2 linked regions of the Homo sapiens genome follow. The protein of the gene in region 1 interacts with the protein of each later gene in a biochemical or structural test. Each region holds a gene or a part of one and is shown in the gene's direction. Other genes may lie near its edges.

Region 1 (9,958 bases):
AGATCTAGCAATAGCGAAGAGACTATTCTAACCCTAGTCCAGAAGGGCAAATGGTGAAGTCATTACCAAACCCCAGAGAAAGTAGATGTAGCTTTGGAAAACATTGCCCAATAAGCTCTGTAGCCTTTGGTAAAGTAACGCAAACATCTCTTTTGACCCTCAAAGTGAGGGATCCAGTTGGCTAAGCACTCTGTCTTCACCTAGTTGCTGACCTACTCTTGGTGCCTGCCATTGACCAAATCTAACTGGATGCCAGAGGGCACAGGAGCCTTATTATGTCTCTGTACAACTCAGCTTCTTGGAACCCATACGAGGTAGAGAAGAATGAAAGGTGTAACTGAAGAAGCAAAATAAGATACCCAGCACAGCCACATTCCCATGAGGGCAAATTTCTTTATGTCTCTAGAACTTCACATCTCCATTGGTACTCCAGAGACAAGCATCAACAATAGTTACATTTTTTATGTAAAAAACCATATTCAGGTACATGAAACACAAGGATTCCAATGAACAAAAGGGTAAAAGAAAGACAATTCACGAAAGAGGAAATTAAACTAGAAAAGAGATGTAAAATAACATTGGCTGTCTGTTGCCAATCAAATGAAAGCTTTGAAGTCACTCAGAATAATTGAAGCAGTTTGAATAAAGAGCGGAGATGTGATAGATTACTTAGTGAATATGAAGGAGCAGCATAGAAGATGGTAGGAGGTACATGGTATACCTGCATGGCCAACAAAATTAAAATAGGACATTGAAGACAGAGAAAAACGATGGCTAGAAAAGCAGTAGGAATAAAAGAGAAGATCATGCTTCCTGGCTTCATGGTATGAGAATGGAGGAGTGAGTAGATACCCATGAGAAAAGATCAAGGGGCATGCAGCCATCAGGGAAAATCCATAGTGCAGATAAAGCAAGGAGGAAGAAGGACAGTTCTAGTAAAAGGGAGAACATCAGTATAGGATGTTTCTTCGCAATAGAAAAAGAAGGCCAAGAGGAATCAGGGAGAGAGTTATAAGAGAAGACTAAGGGGACCAGGTTAGATTTGGTTTGGTTTGAAAGCATACAGTAAATATGATGTCTGTCCCTGGTGGTGTTGGTTGAGTAGGAAGGAGGAAGGGAGGCAAGAGATAATATCATTTTGTCTGTGCTACTGTAATTACATATATCAGGGGAAATTCAGCCAGATATCAGGTAAAATTCACCCCTGATATTTCACGTAGGTTCTTTTCTATTTTCCCTAAGTGTCGGCTGGTCTGAGAAATAAAGGGATAGAGTACAAAAGAGAGAAATTTTAAAGCTGGGTGTCTGGGGAAGACATCACAGTTTGGCAGGTTCCATGATACCCCCTGAGCCACAAAACCAGCAAGTTTTTATTAGTGATTTCAAAAGGAGAGGGAGTGTACGAATAGAGTGTGGGTCACAGAGATCACGTGCTTCACAAGGTGATAGAATATCACAAGGCAAATGGAGGCAGGGTGAGATCACAGGACCACAGGACCTGGGTGAAATTAAAATTGCTAATGAAGTTTCGGGCACGCATTGTCATTGATAACATCTTATCAGGAGACAGGGTTTGAGAGCAGACAACCGGTCTGACCAAAAATTTATTAGATGGGACTTTCCTCATCCTAATAAGCCTAGGAGCGCTACGGGAGGTTGGGGCTTATTTCATCCCTACAGCTTCAACCATAAAAGACGGCTGCCCCCCAAAGCGGCCATTTTAAAGGCCTACCCTCAGGGGCATATTCTCTTTCTCAGGGATGTTCCTTGATGAGAAAAAGAATTCAGCGATATTTCTCCCATTTGCTTTTGAAAGAAGAGAAATATGGCTCTGTTCCACCCAGCTCACCGGCGGTCAGAGTTTAAGGTTATCACTCATGTTCCCTGAACATTGCTGTTATCCTGTTCTTTTTTCAAGGTGCCCAGATTTCATATTGTTCAAACACACATGCTCTACAAATAATTTATGCAGTTAATGCAATCATCACAGGGTCCTGGGACCACATACATTCTCCTCAGCTTGCAAAGATGATGGGATTAAGAGATTAAAGTAAAGACAGGCATAGGAAATCACAAGGGTATTGATTGAGGAAGTGATAAGTGTTCATGAAATCTTCACAATTTATGTTCAGAGATTGCAGTAAAGACAGGCATAAGAAATTATAAAAGTATTAATTTGGGGAACTAATAAATGTCCATGAAAACTTCATAATCTATGTTCTTCTGCCATGGCTTCAGCCAGTCCCTCGGTTCAGGGTCCCTGACTTCCTGCAACATACATGTGAGACTATTTCCCGCTCTGCTTTTCAAACCTTACTGGAGTTGTTTTCCCTCATGAAAACTAAGAAAGGAAAGCTAGTTAATCTTATTCTGAGGTTGTTCAATATATACATATTCACATCTGTAGAGAGATCCTTGGGAATACAGTAATTGGCATATATTCTGTTATTTGATGCTTGAAAAATCTCTTCCACTAACCAGTTTCCCTATAGATAGGCACAAGCACATAGGTAAGAAACAATAAATAAATGTTCTCTTTAATTTGTAACTTCACAATGCTGAGAAAACTTTACAGCCTTCATAAGGAAGTGAGGTCCAGGAAAATCTAGGAGATATTTGTTAACCAACCTATAAAGACATTAGTAATGACAGGATATTTCCTGAAAGTGTAATTTCCCATTGAGGATTTGTTTTTAATTTCTGGATTCCTGGATCCAATGAAGTTGGCATAGGTTTATGAAATGCCAAGATACATAAGTTGGCAAGTGTTCACATGCAAAAAACTTCTTGGAATTCCTGAGCTCTCTGTGGCAATATATGACATCAGGATATGTCCCATCTCGCACATCAGGATATGTCCTGTCAAGAATGTCTATCACATGCCAGGAGTACTTTTTAGGAACAGAAAAAAATGTCTGAAATGGTTTCTCATTTGAACTCATCCAAGCTTTCTCTAAATTTAAGCAAACTCCTGGTCATTTTCAGTTAGTACCTTTCCTCAAGTTCAACCTTCATGACAAACCTCAGCATCTCAGAAGATTTAGCCATAGTCTGAAATTCTCTTCCATAGACTGGTCCCCTGTAATCCCAGTTTGCCTCAGCTTGTTATCCTGCTTTTTATTCCCCTCTATTCCCAGGCTGAGCTTCTTGCTTCTGTCCTATGAGACGTTAGATTCCTTCGCTTTGGTACCCAAGTAAACCCATCCTTCTCCATATACAGGAAGGTCCATTTTTCTCTTACAGCCCTGGATGCAGACTCAGCTAAGAAGACCATTATTCATTTTTGGAATTCTTCATCTAGGATATTTCCTCTTGTTTCTTTCTCTCCTATCTTTGAGCTTTTTAGATCATCAACACCCCATTAGTCTATTACCCAACTTAAATCAGGGAACTTATACCTCCCAAACTCATTCAGAGACTCCAAACATATATATTGATACAGGAGACCTAAGAAGAGCATGTCTTGGGGGTTGAGGAAACAGGCAGGTGAGAAACTTCCAGATTGGAAACACAGCTTCCTTTCTCCCGTCCAGCCCCTACTTCATCCTATCTGTTTCCGGAACCTTGTTGTAGATGAATCTCCCTTGACTTCATGATGTGCTGAGAAAACAAACTCATGGCTGGTGTTAAAAAGGGCCCATGACAATACCAAGTGTTGGGGAGAATGTGGAGAAATCAGAACTCTATTCACAGTCGGTTGGAATGCACACTTGTGCAGAATTCTATGGAGAAGAGTCTGGCATTTCCTCAAAATGTTAACCTGGATTTACCATATGACCCAGCGATTTCATTCATAGGTTTATACTCAAAAGAAATGAAGAAATATGCCATGCAAAAAAATGTACATGAAAAGTCAAAACATCATTATTCATAATAGTAAATGGATGGAAACAACACAAATGTCCATCAACTTATGAATAAAGAAAATGTGGTCTATTCATAGAATGGAATATTATTCGACCACAAAAAGGAATGATGTACTGATCCATGCAATGACGTGGACAAACCTTGAAGATAATACTAGATGAAAGAAGCCAGTCACAAAAGGACTTACTGTATGATTCGATTTACGTGAAATGTTTAGAATAGGCAAATCCATAGAAACAGGAGGTAGATTACTGGTTTCCAGGGTCTCGAGTAAGGGAAGAACGAGATACAAGTTTTCTTTTGGAGGTAGTGAAATTGTTGTGGAACGAGATCATGATGGTGATAGCACAACTTTGTGAATATAATAAAATCATTGAATTGTACAGTTGAATTTGTGGCATATAAATTATATGTTAAAAAAGGGGGTCCACAAAACAAACAGCCCCCCACTCTGGTTGTCAGGGAGATATTGGATTAAATGGCCTTGGACAACAACCCTCTCCCTGGCCACAGACATTCTTCAGATTACAAGATATTCCAGAGGAAACACTGGAATGAGTCTGAAGCCAGGTGCTAAATGGAAGGACCACCAAGAAACGTTGTGATCCTGACAGGTCAAGCAACTTCTTTTTCTGCTTAATTTTTAAATGAAAAATTAGAAAGCTGACATTCAAAATGGCCCGTCTGTTTCAATTGCTCTTCTCAGTGTCAGCCTGTTAACTCAATGTGTTAGTCTGTTTTCATGCTGCTGATAAAGACATACCTGAGATTAGGAAGTAAAAGAGGTTTAATTGGACTTAGAGTTCCACGTGATTGGGGAGGCCTCAGAATCACGGTAGGAGGCAAAAGTTATTCTTACATGGTGGCTGCAAGAGAAAATGAGGAAGAAGCAAAAGAAGAAACCCCTAATAAACCCATTGGATCTCCTGAGACTTATTAACTATCATGAGAATAGCACAAGAAAGACCGGCCCCCATGATTCAATTACCTCTACCTGGGTCCCTCCAACAACATGTGGAAATTCTGGTAGATACAATTCAAGTTGAGATTTGGGTGGGAACACAGCCAAACCATATCACTCAGCAAGGCAGATAACTTTCTCACTGAGCCTATGCAACAGAAAACCATCTGGGATGGTTGTAAGGGGCACAGGAAGTGACTGGTAGGATCACTGCCAAAGCTGAGCATTCAGGAGAAGGCAATAGAATCCTATTCTCCATAGTATGCTATAAGATACTGAAGTACACTTCTTCACTATCTCTTTGGACTTAGAATTAGCACTATATTCCTTGTTATACAGAAAAATTACTAAGGAAATTCATAGGATGACAAAAACTTTCAGAACTGAAAAACAGGAAATGTAAGCTTTTTAGTTCTTTGGTATTCGAAGTATGCCTAAAAGACAATGCAAAATCCAAGAAAAGAATGGTGGGGTTTTTGTTTGTTTGTTTTTGTTTTTGTTTTACAGCTGGAGTAGAATACAAAGGGATGGAGTTGAAACAAATGAGAGGAAATTGGAATTCTAAACTTATTCTCATTGGCATTAGAAAGGCACCTACATGTATTTCACATGAGCCGGTGACTGCTGACTTGCATTCTTATTTTTTCCCTATAGATTAAAAAGGAGGTACAATGGTAGAACTGTAATCCTGTCCTTTGTCATAAATTTTCGTATTCATAAAGGTGAGTGTTAGCCCGCTTGTGAAATCTGAAGTTGAGTAACTTCAAATACTAACCACAGAGGGAGAGGCAGCAAGAGGAGAGGCATAAATTCAGGATCTCACCCTTCATTCCACAGACACACATAGCCTCTCTGCCCACCTCTGCTTCCTCTAGGAACACAGGTAAGAGCTTCAAGCCTCTCCAGCTTAATAACATGAATTATTTTTGAGAATAATAATGATACTGTGTTCTATATCATGCATCTCCTGCATTCTGTCTGATTATATTTTACTTATTCTGCCAGAGCAAAATTAAAATACCTATTTCATCTGATTTGTCCTTTATCTAAATTGCTTAGTTCCAAGTAAACCAAGGCACTTTTAGGAACACAGAGGGAGAGTGCCTTGCAGCCAGAGAGTCTTGAAGGAGATGTCAGGGACGCATCTTAACAGCTGGTTGGATGTGATCCACAGAGGTCTCCTGTTAGCATTCATTGTAAAGCCTTCCTACCTAGCCCTAGTGTAGCCAGCAATGAAGGAAAGAGGGTCTATTACTTATTTACAGTAGTCTTTAAAAACACTAATTTTGTGAGGCTTCTAATTAAGACATTAATATATTTAATATATGCACATTGTAGAAAGATTGAAACGTTAAAAATAAGATGAGGAAAACTTTAAATGTCAAAATCTCACAACACAGATATATAATTTCTTTAAGAAAATTGTACTACAAAATACCATTCCATTTATTAAAGTCATTCTGACAGGAATCTGATGCTTTTCCAGGAGTTCCAGATCACATCGAGTTCACCATGAATTCACTCAGTGAAGCCAACACCAAGTTCATGTTCGACCTGTTCCAACAGTTCAGAAAATCAAAAGAGAACAACATCTTCTATTCCCCTATCAGCATCACATCAGCATTAGGGATGGTCCTCTTAGGAGCCAAAGACAACACTGCACAACAGATTAAGAAGGTAGCTATCAGCATCATTATGTTGTCCTGTTGCAGTTTTTCTCTGGTTCCGTCGGCTAGCACGCAGATGGTAATAGATGTGGTGGTCTGATGGGTAGCACAGGGGGCTGAGCAGGAATTCCCGTAACTGTGAGACCACTGACTTAAACAGATCTTTTGAGTAAAGTTTTCTTGTCCCGCTTCATGTCTCTTCCAGGTTCTTCACTTTGATCAAGTCACAGAGAACACCACAGGAAAAGCTGCAACATATCATGTGAGTCACAGAGCACTATGGTTCAGCTTTAGATCCCCGAACAGGTCATAGTTTGAACCTGGAACTTCACAGAAACTAAGAAAAGGCCATTTTTAGGGAAAATCTTGGACACAAAGATTGAGACATACAGAGTGGGTTGGCATTTCATGGCACATAATTATTATTCCTCCTTTCTTCGTTACTGAAAGACAGTCAGCACTGTACCTCAGAGCATAGGTCTGGATCAGGATAGGCTAGGTTCAGACTCCAGCTTTGCTCTTCACAAATGGTGAACATGAGCAGGACACAACTGCTCAGAGTCCCAGTGACCTCATCCCAGAAAACTAAGGGTAATAAGAAATCTGACTCAATACATGCAAATACATGCAAATGTTTACAACATTGCCTTGCCCATAAAATGTCATAATAAATGTTATTATTATTATAAAATAGCTATAATTATACTAATCACAATAATGTTGCAAAATATTTAATTTTCATTGAGTCATTAATGAGATAAAGAGGAATAAGCACAAGTCCAACTATATTTTGGAAAATGATTGCTATGGAATATATTGGTTTAGAGCCTTAATAGTGCAAAATGCTTTGCTGGAAAGTAGAAGTTTCTAGATTTAAACAGGCTTAGGTTCAAAACGTGGCACTTCTAATTTATGTCTCTATGAAGAGGTTTACTTTCCATTCTCTGAGCTTTCTTGTTTTCACCTGAATTGAACTAAAGACTTAAAGTTACCCATGTAAAGTCCTTAGCCATGTACCTGGCACACACTCTTCTTACGTGCAGAGAATGACCATCATGAGGAAACAGTCACAGATCAGTCAATGTGTCCTACAAGATAACAGCACCAACAGGTATAACAGGGCTTCCTGGCATAATCTATTTAAAATATCCAACCTTCAACATACTCATATCCTTGATGACTGTTAGAAGTGAAATATGGTCCTTGCCTTTAAGGAGCTGAGAGTTTAACTGGGAAGCTAAACCTAACCCTTTAAACCAACAAGGACAAAATCCAGTGGTAGACAGTGCTGCATCTATAGTTCAGAAGAGAAAAGATTGCAGTACATTAGAGCAAGAAGAATTTCCTGGAAGAAGTGAAACATAAGGTGGATTTTGAAGGGTATTTGAGGTGAAATACACCAAGTATCAGGGAATAAGCTCAAAGGTCCTCATTGAGACTACCAGCCATTAGGGACTGATCTAACAGACTTAGCATGGGTTTAGTATTTACATTGATACAGCAATTGAATGATCTCCTTTTTTGATGTTTGAAGGTTGATAGGTCAGGAAATGTTCATCACCAGTTTCAAAAGCTTCTGACTGAATTCAACAAATCCACTGATGCATATGAGCTGAAGATCGCCAACAAGCTCTTCGGAGAAAAAACGTATCTATTTTTACAGGTAATTTCACCTGGCCTACCCACATTTCATTTGCATCCTGATGTCTGTGTCTCTGAGTGGCCAAATGGAAGAAAGCAAGGCAGATGAGCCTGACCGATCCAGGTGGAGAGCATTTACTCAGAGTGCAATAGCTCCGTTTCCACAACTCTCCCCCACTGGAGTGTCCCAGACCCTAACAATACATCACTGAAGTGTGGATTTAGGGATAATCTTGTAATAAAAGAGGAGGTTGGGTAATAGAGTGAGTAAGAGTAATAAGTAATAAGATACCATCGATAAACTGGCACTGACTCAGTCACATACGATACATCTTGGTGGGAAATGTATGACTAATGGGATATTATTGGAATGGGCAGGCTTGGGTGAGTTCCTGAGAATAGTTGAGGAAGTACCAGGAAATACTGAATGCACAGGATGAAAGATAAAAACAAAGATCAGAAACATCATGGTTGAAATTACTGGAAAGAGGTCTGAGAAGCAATGAATCTCCTTCAGGGAAGCCTGCTCTGCAGTTTGCAAACCACAGCCTCTTCTGCTTCTGCCTTTTGCCAGATGATATTGACCTTCGGTGACCTCTTTCTTGCGCCAGCCCGCACTCCGCTTTTGCATTGCCTACATGGCACCAGTATAAAAATATGCATGGACAGGAGATACTGCATCTATTCAGGGTCTGGATTCAGCTTACTATAATTATAAATAACTAAATTTGGTAATATATAGTTACATAAATTACTCTTACTTCCTACTTTCTTCCTTCATATCTCAAAGGAATATTTAGATGCCATCAAGAAATTTTACCAGACCAGTGTGGAATCTGTTGATTTTGCAAATGCTCCAGAAGAAAGTCGAAAGAAGATTAACTCCTGGGTGGAAAGTCAAACGAATGGTAGGAGAGCCACCCATTATAGAAACACCTTTGAGAAATCTATGCGAGTGAGCCCTATGCCTGAAACTGCATGGGGGACCATGGGTGGGAATTGAGATGGCTTTGCAGGGAGGGAAGAAGAGGGCACTCCAGATGAAGAGTTTTTCCAAATGATTATGAAGAGAGCCTAGGGGAGCCAAGGAGGAAATCACAGGAAGCCAATTAGAAGAAAACATAGCCGGAGGATTCTTTGCTCATGTTCCTGGATGACAATAGCTTTGTGGATCCCTTGTCTCCACTCAGGTCCAATTTGAGATCATGTCCTTTACTTTAAATCAGAACCAATATTTTATGATGAATATTTAAAAGGAAACATTAGAAAGCATCTCCCTTCCCCTTTACTAATTGGGAAACAAGCAGCTCTCTGGTAAATCACCCTTTTGCCATCTGAACTAGAGCTGCCTGGATCACATCTCTAGCCACAAGTTCTGCAGGGATTATCACAGCTCTCTTCCCCATCAAGGGCAAGAGCTTAACAAATTCTCCATTCTATAGACATCTATCCTACCTCCCACCTCTCATTACAGGCCAAACTTACAGCAACTCAACATGAGAGTGAATAGGAAGATACCCCCGGAAGTAGTGTCTGACAGCACAGGACATGCGTTTCATATTACAGAGCTCATGTCACTTGTCCTAAAAAGCAGTCAGGGCCTACTTCCTCTGAATGGGGACCCCGTAGTTAAAAAAAAAAAAAAAAAAGTAGGAAGAGGAGGGAGGGAGAAAGGAAAGACACATGTTGAAAGAGTAGACAAAATCAGTTTATCAGTATTCCAAATCAGATGAATGGACTCATTCATACACAGAGAACGTGAACTCCTTCTCTATCACAAGAAGTGATGTCTCCATTAAGGGCAACTTTATACGACTGGAGC
Region 2 (8,407 bases), on another chromosome or scaffold:
TGCAATCTTGGCTCACTGCAACCTACACCTCCCGGGTTCAAGCGATTCTCCTGCCTCAGCCTCCTGAGTAGCTGAGATTACAGGCACGCGCCACTACGCCTGGCTAATTTTTCTATTTTTATAGAGATGCGTTTTCACCATGTTGGCCAGGCTGGTCTTGAACTGACCTCAGGTGATCCACCTGCCTCAGCCTCCCAAAGTGCTGGGATTAGAGTCATGAGCCATCGCGGCCTGGTTTTTCTTTATTACAAATAGTGTTGCAATAAGCACCCTTGTGCATATGTTTTTGTGCACATGTACAAATATTTATGCAAAATAAGTCCTAAAATTGGAATTGTTAGGTCACAAATAATCCTTTCCCCCCCCCCAAATTTTTTTTTTTTTTTTGAGACAGCGTCTCTGTCACCCAGGCTGGAGTCCAGTGGCGCAATCATGGCTCACTGCAGCCTCAACGTCTCAGGCTCAAGTGATTCTCCAACCTCAGCCTCCCTAGTAGCTGGGATTAGAAGCACATGCCACCACACCCAGCTAATTTTAAAAAATTTTTTGTAGAGACAGAGTTTTGCCATGCTACCCAGGCTGGTCTCAAATTCCTGGGCTCAAGCAATCTGCCCGCTTCGGCCTCCCAAAGTGCTAGGATTACAGACATGAGCCACCATGCCCAGCCCAAAAAAGTTTTTGCAATCTTACATTCTTACTAGCATGAGAATGTCAGTTTTTTCACAACCCAAACAACACAGGATTGTATCAGCAAGATAAACAATTGATTTAACGTTCATTTAACAAACACTTTTTGACCCCCAGAACCTACCAGATGCAGTGTTAGGCAGCAGAGACTCAAGATGACTAAGACACAACCTGTGTCCTCAGGAAATCTCAATCTAAAAAAATAGAACAGGAAAGAAAGAAAAATCTACAATCTAGCTGCACAAACAATAATAGCTAATACTTTTTGAGATTTTATTGTTTGTCAGGAACTTCTTAACTCTTTACATGAGTTAAATATTTAATCCTTATAACAATATTTTATGCATAGAGAAACTGAGACACAGGCAAATTTAGTAACTTACCCGGGGTCACATAGCTACTGGGTGGCAAAGTCAGGGTTAGCACCCAGGACAAATGCCTCCACAGCTGGTACTGTGCTCTGCTTTACTGTAGCTAATAGTAAAAATGGTAGCAAAAATCAATAGCAGTAGAACAGTGCAACAGATATTAAGCGGAAGAGGAAGACTCACAACAATGACAACATTTGTGCTGAAATTTTTAGAACACATGGAATTTCTTCAGGCAGGTAGAGAGAAGATATAGAAAATGTAAACAGCAAAGATTGATAGTTTCTCTGTATGCCTTTCAGGGTCAGTGTGGTTCCTGTTGGGCTTTTAGCTCTGTGGGTGCCCTGGAGGGCCAACTCAAGAAGAAAACTGGCAAACTCTTAAATCTGAGTCCCCAGAACCTAGTGGATTGTGTGTCTGAGAATGATGGCTGTGGAGGGGGCTACATGACCAATGCCTTCCAATATGTGCAGAAGAACCGGGGTATTGACTCTGAAGATGCCTACCCATATGTGGGACAGGTGAGATTGCTCCACACAATTATACAGCTCTGTTGGCTCCTCCTTCCCCAGCATGATGTTTTGTACTGGAAACAATTCCAGAAATACTGTTTTCTGTTATCCTATCCTGCTTTCTTGATGGAATAATTTCCCACAGAAGGCCAAGAAGATTTCCACAATCTGGGGGAATTTAGGGAGCTTAAGCTACTATAGCTCCTATTTGCATCTCTGCCATGGAGAGAAAACAGAGGCTAGGCTACCTACCCCATAGACTTCCGAGCTGGGTTCTATAACCCTCTGCTCAATTCCTCACTCCCACAACAAACCCACAAACCCACCATGCTATTTTCACAAATTGTGTGGCTTTATTTTATATGATCTCAGTGTGAGTTTTCAGAACATTTCAGCAAATTATGTAAGTTTACATGCTAACATCTATAAAATGAGAGAAAAAACAAGTTGCTTCATATAAGAGATAAGGGATTAACTCAGTTCCTCCTGCATGATCCTCTAGTCATAGGAAGGAAATCATATCTGAAAGGGAGGCAACCTGAGGGGTTTTTTATACACATAGGGCTGGGTCTGATAGACAATATAATGTAGGGCCTTCACAACAGAAACCTCTGAAACAGGGACAGCAAGTTTGAGAATAAAAATGATGGCTACTGTGTTCTAAGCCGTGTCCTTAGTGCATTTTTTCTTTTTCTTTTTTTCATTTAATCTCATAACAACTCTGTTAGGTAGACTTATCTTGAATGTATAGGTGAGGAAATGGACACTTAAGGAGATAAGACAGTATAATTCATACCACTAGTATGTAACAATGTAAGATGTATCTACCAGGGATGTTTATCTTCTGCAAACATTCCTAGGTATATCTCCCATGCACATGTGCAAGAATTTCTTACTAGGATATAATGCCTTGGAACTGAATTGTCTGGGTCTTAGGGTATGTCTGTCTTCAACTTTACTACACAATGTCAAATTGTTTGCCAAAATATTTGGAAAAATTTATACCTGCAATGTGTAAGAAATCCCCTTCAATCACCTTTTTATCAGTATGTTTATCTGGCCATTTGCATTTCTTCTTCAGTGAATTAACTGTTTTTATCTCTTGCTCATTTGTTTTTCTTTTTATTTTTTTGAAATAGGGTCTTACTCTGTTGCCCAGGCTGGAGTGTGGTGATATAGTCATAGCTCACTGCAGCCTCCACTTCCTGGGCTCAAGCAATCCTCTCGCCTCAGCCTCCCAAATAGCTAGGATATAGGTGCATGCCATCATGCCCACCAATTTCAAAAAACCTTTGAAATTTTTTTTTGTAGAGGCTAGGCATGGTGGCTCATGCCTGTAATCCCAGCACTTTGGGAGGCTGAGGTGGGAGGATCACTTAAGCCCAGGAGTTCCAGATCAGCCTGGTACAACATAGCAAGACCTCATCTCTACAGAAAAAATTTTTAAAAGTAGCCAGGTATGATGGCGTGCATAGTTCTAGCTACTCAGGAGGCTGGTTGGGAGGACAACTTGAGCCTGGGAGTTCAAGGCTGCTGTGAGCTGTGATCATGTCACTGCTCTCTAGCCTGGGTGACAGAGTGAGACCCTGTCCCCAAAAACAACAACCGTTTTTTTTGGTAGAGACATTGTCTCGCTATGTTGCCAAGGCTAGTCTCAAACTCCTAGGCTCAAGCAATCCTCCCACCTCCCAAAGTGCTGGGATTATAGATGTAAGCCACCATGCCTGGCCTACCCTTTTTTTTTTTTTTTTGAAATGGAGTTTTGCTTTTGTCACCTAGGCTTGAGTGCAGTGGCGCGATCTTGGCTCACTGCAACCTCCACCTCCTGGATTCAAGCAATTCTCCTGCCTCAGCCTCCTGAGTAGCTGGGATTATAGGCACCCGCAACCACGCCCGGCTAGTTTTTGTATTTTTAGTACAGACAGGGTTTCACCATGTTGGCCAGGCTGGTCTTGAACCCCTGACCTCAGGTGGTCCGCCCGCCTCGGCCTCCCAAAGTGCTGGGATTACAGGTGTGAGCCACCATGCCCCACCCCTTACTCATTTTTAATTGGATTGTTTTTTCTCTTTCTTAGCGATTCTTAAAAGTTTAAAGAGAATATTTGGATACAATACTATGTATTTAAAAGTTGAGGTTTGTCTTTTCATTCTTTTTATGATGTCTTTCAATCTAGAAAAGTTAATTTTAATAGGCCTGGCGCGGTGGCTCACGCTTGTAATCCCAGCACTTTGGGAGGCTGAGATGGGTGGATCACAAGGTCAGGAGATCAAGACCATCCTGGCTAACATGGTGAAACCCTGTCTCTACTAAAAATACAAAAAAATTAGCTGGGCGTGGTGGCAGGTGCCTGTAGTTCCAGCTACTCGGGAGGCTGAGGCAGGAGAATGGCGTGAACCCGGGAGGTGGAGCTTGCAGTGAGCCGAGATTGCACCACTGCACTCCAGCCTGGGCAACTGAGCAAGACTGCGTTTCAAAAAAAAAAAAAAGTTAATTTTAATATAGTAAAATTAGTAAAATGATTAATTTTCCTTTGCAATTTTTGTAATGTGTTTTATTCGTTTATGAATGGAGAAAGGTAAGAAAAAATAAAATTTAAAAAAGAAGAGATGTGGCCAGGTACGGTGGCTCACACCTATAATCCCAGTAGTTTGGGAGGCTGAGGCAGGCAGATCACTTGAGGTCAGGAGTTTGAGACCAGCTGGGATAACATGGTGAAACCCCATCTCTACTAAAAATACAAAAATTAGCCAGGTGTGATTGCGCACGCTTGTAATCCCAGCAGGCTGAGGCAGGAGAATTGCTCGAACTCAGGAGGCAGAGGTTGCAGTGAGCCAAGATCATGCCATTGCACTCCAGCCTGGGTAACAGAGACTCTGTCTCAAAAAATAAAAAGATAAAAAAGAAGAGATCTGATAGGGCGGCCAGATAACATTTTAAAGGGATGGTATTATAAGTTTGTTCCAGCATAATGCAGGTTATTCTGACTTTAAAGTATCATCACATAATATCTTTTTGAGTCAATTTCCAAGATATTCTGTTTCACTTGTAATTCTGTGTAATTTTTGGCACCAGGAGGCATCAGGGATTTGGAGCACATGGCAGAAACAAAGGCATCTTGAAAAATATCAAGGCAGTAGACCACTGTAATCTTAAAATGGCATATCAAATGCTGCTATTGCTGTTAATATTTAGATAATGTTAGATAATGTATTTTTTTAGAGGGTATCTCACTATCTTGCACAGGCTGGAGTAGAGTGGCTATTCACAGCATGATCACAGTACACTAAAGGCTCAAACTCCTGGGCACAAACAATCCTCCTGCCTCAGCCTGCTGAGTAGTAGATAATAAGTTCTTGTGGATGCAACCTTAGGGTTCTGAAGGGGTAGTCTGTAGGAAAATGAATTGCTGAAAAGAATACACCACCTTAACATGGGCTATTATTCGATTCCATAATTGTGGCTTGCCAATGAAACATTGCTAACTACCTGTAAAATATAGTGTTGGAAGTCATAGGCTAAATTGCTAAGTTCTTTAATCTATTTTAGTGTCTTGTTATGTACTTTTATATTTTGTCTTTGATGAGAGCACAAGGATCACACCAGTTCCCCTGATATAGGTGCAGAGGGCCCAGGTCTTCCCTCTAGCTAAGCCTTGGCCTTGGCCTCCTACCCACACAGCAGCTGGTGCCTTCCTGCCCCCTGAGGCTAATACATACTATGTGGCCAGAAGATGGTTTATGCTTTTTAAAAAAATCTTATTTCAGAAATCTTTCCCTACTGTTTTCCTCCCACATTTATGTCTTAAAACACCTGTAGTTGATTTTTTTTTTTTTTGAGATGGAGTCTCGCTCTCGCCCAGGCTGGAGTGCAATGGCGCGATCTTGGCTCACTACAAGGTCTGCCTCCCAGGTTCACGCCATTCTCCTGCCTCAGCCTCCCCAGTAGCTGGGACTACAGGCGCCCGCTACCACGCCTGGCTAATTTTTTTGCATTTTTAGTAGAGACAGGGTTTCACTGTGTTAGCCAGGATGGTCTCGATCTCCTGACCTCGTGATCCACCCTCCTCAGCCTCCCAAAGTGCTGGGATTACAGGCATGAGCCACCGCACCTGGCCTGTAGTTGGTTTTTATGTGTGGTGGAAGGCGGGAATCCTCTTTTCATATTCGTTTTTCTGAGGAAGAACAGACCCTCTCTAGAAACCCTAGACTGCTGCCTCTGTTAGTTCACTGGCATCACTCAAAATATTGGTTGAGTTTCTTACTCACTGACTCATTGCCTATTGCTTTGTCCTAGTCCTATTACAATCTTGTTTCTTCCAGGAAGAGAGTTGTATGTACAACCCAACAGGCAAGGCAGCTAAATGCAGAGGGTACAGAGAGATCCCCGAGGGGAATGAGAAAGCCCTGAAGAGGGCAGTGGCCCGAGTGGGACCTGTCTCTGTGGCCATTGATGCAAGCCTGACCTCCTTCCAGTTTTACAGCAAAGGTAAGAAGCTGCTGATCCTATACAGCACTGTCTTTTATGATACAAACTTGATGGTTTCTCGAAGGACCTTGGGTATTTTCAGTACTTAGTTTTTGTATTCACATGGAGGTGGCCAGAGAGAAATTAACAACTGCTGCAGTATGGAGCAGCATCTCTGTGGTAAACCCTCCTGACACGGATGGAATTCTTCAAACAGTCTCCTAGACTGGGAGATCCCACAGGGTGACCCTTGGATTGCATAGAGCCTCACGCTGGTAGTTTGTATTCTAGGTGTGTATTATGATGAAAGCTGCAATAGCGATAATCTGAACCATGCAGTTTTGGCAGTGGGATATGGAATCCAGAAGGGAAACAAGCACTGGATAATTAAAAACAGGTAATGATGGGAACACTACTTTTGTTATTCAGTCACCCTTTTAACACTCAACCTCACCTCCAGCTTCCCGATATTCCTTTCTCTGTCCCAAATCAAGAAAAAATTATCTCAGAGTTCTCACTTCTATCTTCTCAGTCAGAGGCTCTTAATTCTCAGTCTGACACTTAATGGCCAGTGTGTTAGTCCATTTTGCATTGCCACAAAAGAATACCCGAGACTGGGTAATTTATAAAGAAACGAGGTTTGTTTGGCTATACAAAGCGTGGCACTAGTATCTGCTCAGCCTCTGATGAGGCCTCAGAGCTTTTACTCATGGCAGAAGGCAAAAGAGGGAGCAGGCATGTCACATAGTGAGAGAGGGAGCAAGAGAGAGAGGGAGGTGCCGACTCTTTAAAGAACCAGCTCTTGCATGAACTAATAGAGTGAGAACTCACTCATCACCAAGGCGATGGCACCAAGCCATTCATGAGGAATCCACTCTCATAACCCAAACACCTCCCACTATGCCCCACCTCCCACATTGGGGATCACATTTCAGCATGAGACTGGGAGGGGACACACATCCAAACCATATCCGCCAGACAATAGTGCTCAATTATGTGCTGGGCAGATGCTCCCTGTGTGCAAGGTGCTTAGTGACATACATAAACCAACGAGCAGATGACACCTTCAGTGAGCTCAGAGCCCAATAAGACAGACCTAACTAACCATGAGATAAAGCAGTACAAAGAACCAGCAGGAGCTTTGGAATTACGTATTTTTACTTTCTTTTGTCTCTAATGTGATCAGTTTCTTAGATGGTTTCCATTAGCAATCTGTCTTTAACAGTAGGGGAACAGCGTAAAGGTTTAATATTCCTTTGAACAGTTTTTTTCCTTCAAAATACACTTAAGATACACGTATATAAGAACTTGCCAAAGATTGTGAAGAGAAACATTTTTTAGAAATAAGATATAAACAAAAAAAGTTAGTGTTTACTTTCCTATGTTGGGGAACAAAGAAAACTCCAGGGTACCTTGCTTCCCATTTCTCTTTAGCACCTTGTGACTTTTGGGGAGGGGCAGATTGATAACAATTATAGTTTTCCTTTCCTGGCTGATCACCATTAACCTGGCAGCAGCACTGGCTAAATCTCCTGTCCTTAGTGCCCTCCAAGGAGCAGGAGCCCTAGACTCTGGGTCGCTGACAGACTCACGCAGTGGTGTTGTTCAAACCTGAAGCAACTTTTTATATCACAGTTCCAACTCAAGGTGAACCTGAGCATCTTCCCAAGTCTCCCACAGCTTCTGTCCTGTGTTGTCCCTTCTCTTGACTCCCAGGTCCAAGCACTTACCCTGTTCTTTCATGATCAGGTACCATGTGTGGAGATAGCTTCCAAGAGAGCTGGGAGGAAGAAAGGACACACCCGGGCAGGATCAGGAACACTGGGGGCCCCTGGAGAAGGGGAGAGTGGGGGAGGGTACAGGTTTTAAATAAAATGTGTTGGGTAATTAGAGAAGTTGCTGGTTGGGGAAAGAGGACTGAAAACAATTCAGGAAGATAAACAGACAATCTCTCCTCTCTCCTCTTTCTCACGTCGTCTCTCTTGTCTTCTAGTCTCGCTACTCATTTCCTTAGTAATCTCATCCACTCTCATAGTTTCATCCATCTCTCCTATGGGGTTTACTCCCAAATCAAGATCACCAGCTTCAGCCTCTTTCTTATGCTCTAAACTCACATTTTCAAGATTAATATTCCCCAAATACAGCTCTGATCATATCACTCTCCCACTCAAAATCCCTCACTGGCTCCTCACGATGATGGGTCACAGAGTAAAGGTGAAGCTTTTTAACCTTGCAGTAAAGGTAATTCAACCTGATCTCAATCTGCCTTTCCAGACATCTCTCCCACTACACCCTGTTAGGCACACTGCTTTTCAGCTACATGATCCTAACAGTGCCCCACACTTTCCTGCCTCTGTTGTTCATTTCACACCCTT

What was found.
Region 2: the proteins of SERPINB3 (region 1) and CTSK form a complex in vitro, tested with the Homo sapiens proteins (one study listed by BioGRID).

The regions. Positions count from the first base shown.
Region 1 is NC_000018.10:63,657,599-63,667,556, reverse strand, and holds the start of SERPINB3 (serpin B3), read left to right. Parts: upstream 1-5,663; 5' UTR 5,664-5,711; intron 5,712-6,314; 5' UTR 6,315-6,340; coding exon 6,341-6,505; intron 6,506-6,700; coding exon 6,701-6,757; intron 6,758-8,029; coding exon 8,030-8,158; intron 8,159-8,926; coding exon 8,927-9,044; intron 9,045-9,958. UniProt on the Homo sapiens protein: May act as a papain-like cysteine protease inhibitor to modulate the host immune response against tumor cells. Also functions as an inhibitor of UV-induced apoptosis via suppression of the activity of c-Jun NH(2)-terminal kinase (JNK1).
Region 2 is NC_000001.11:150,797,190-150,805,596, reverse strand, and holds part of CTSK (cathepsin K preproprotein), read left to right. Parts: intron 1-1,357; coding exon 1,358-1,576; intron 1,577-5,887; coding exon 5,888-6,053; intron 6,054-6,323; coding exon 6,324-6,429; intron 6,430-8,407. UniProt on the Homo sapiens protein: Thiol protease involved in osteoclastic bone resorption and may participate partially in the disorder of bone remodeling. Displays potent endoprotease activity against fibrinogen at acid pH. May play an important role in extracellular matrix degradation.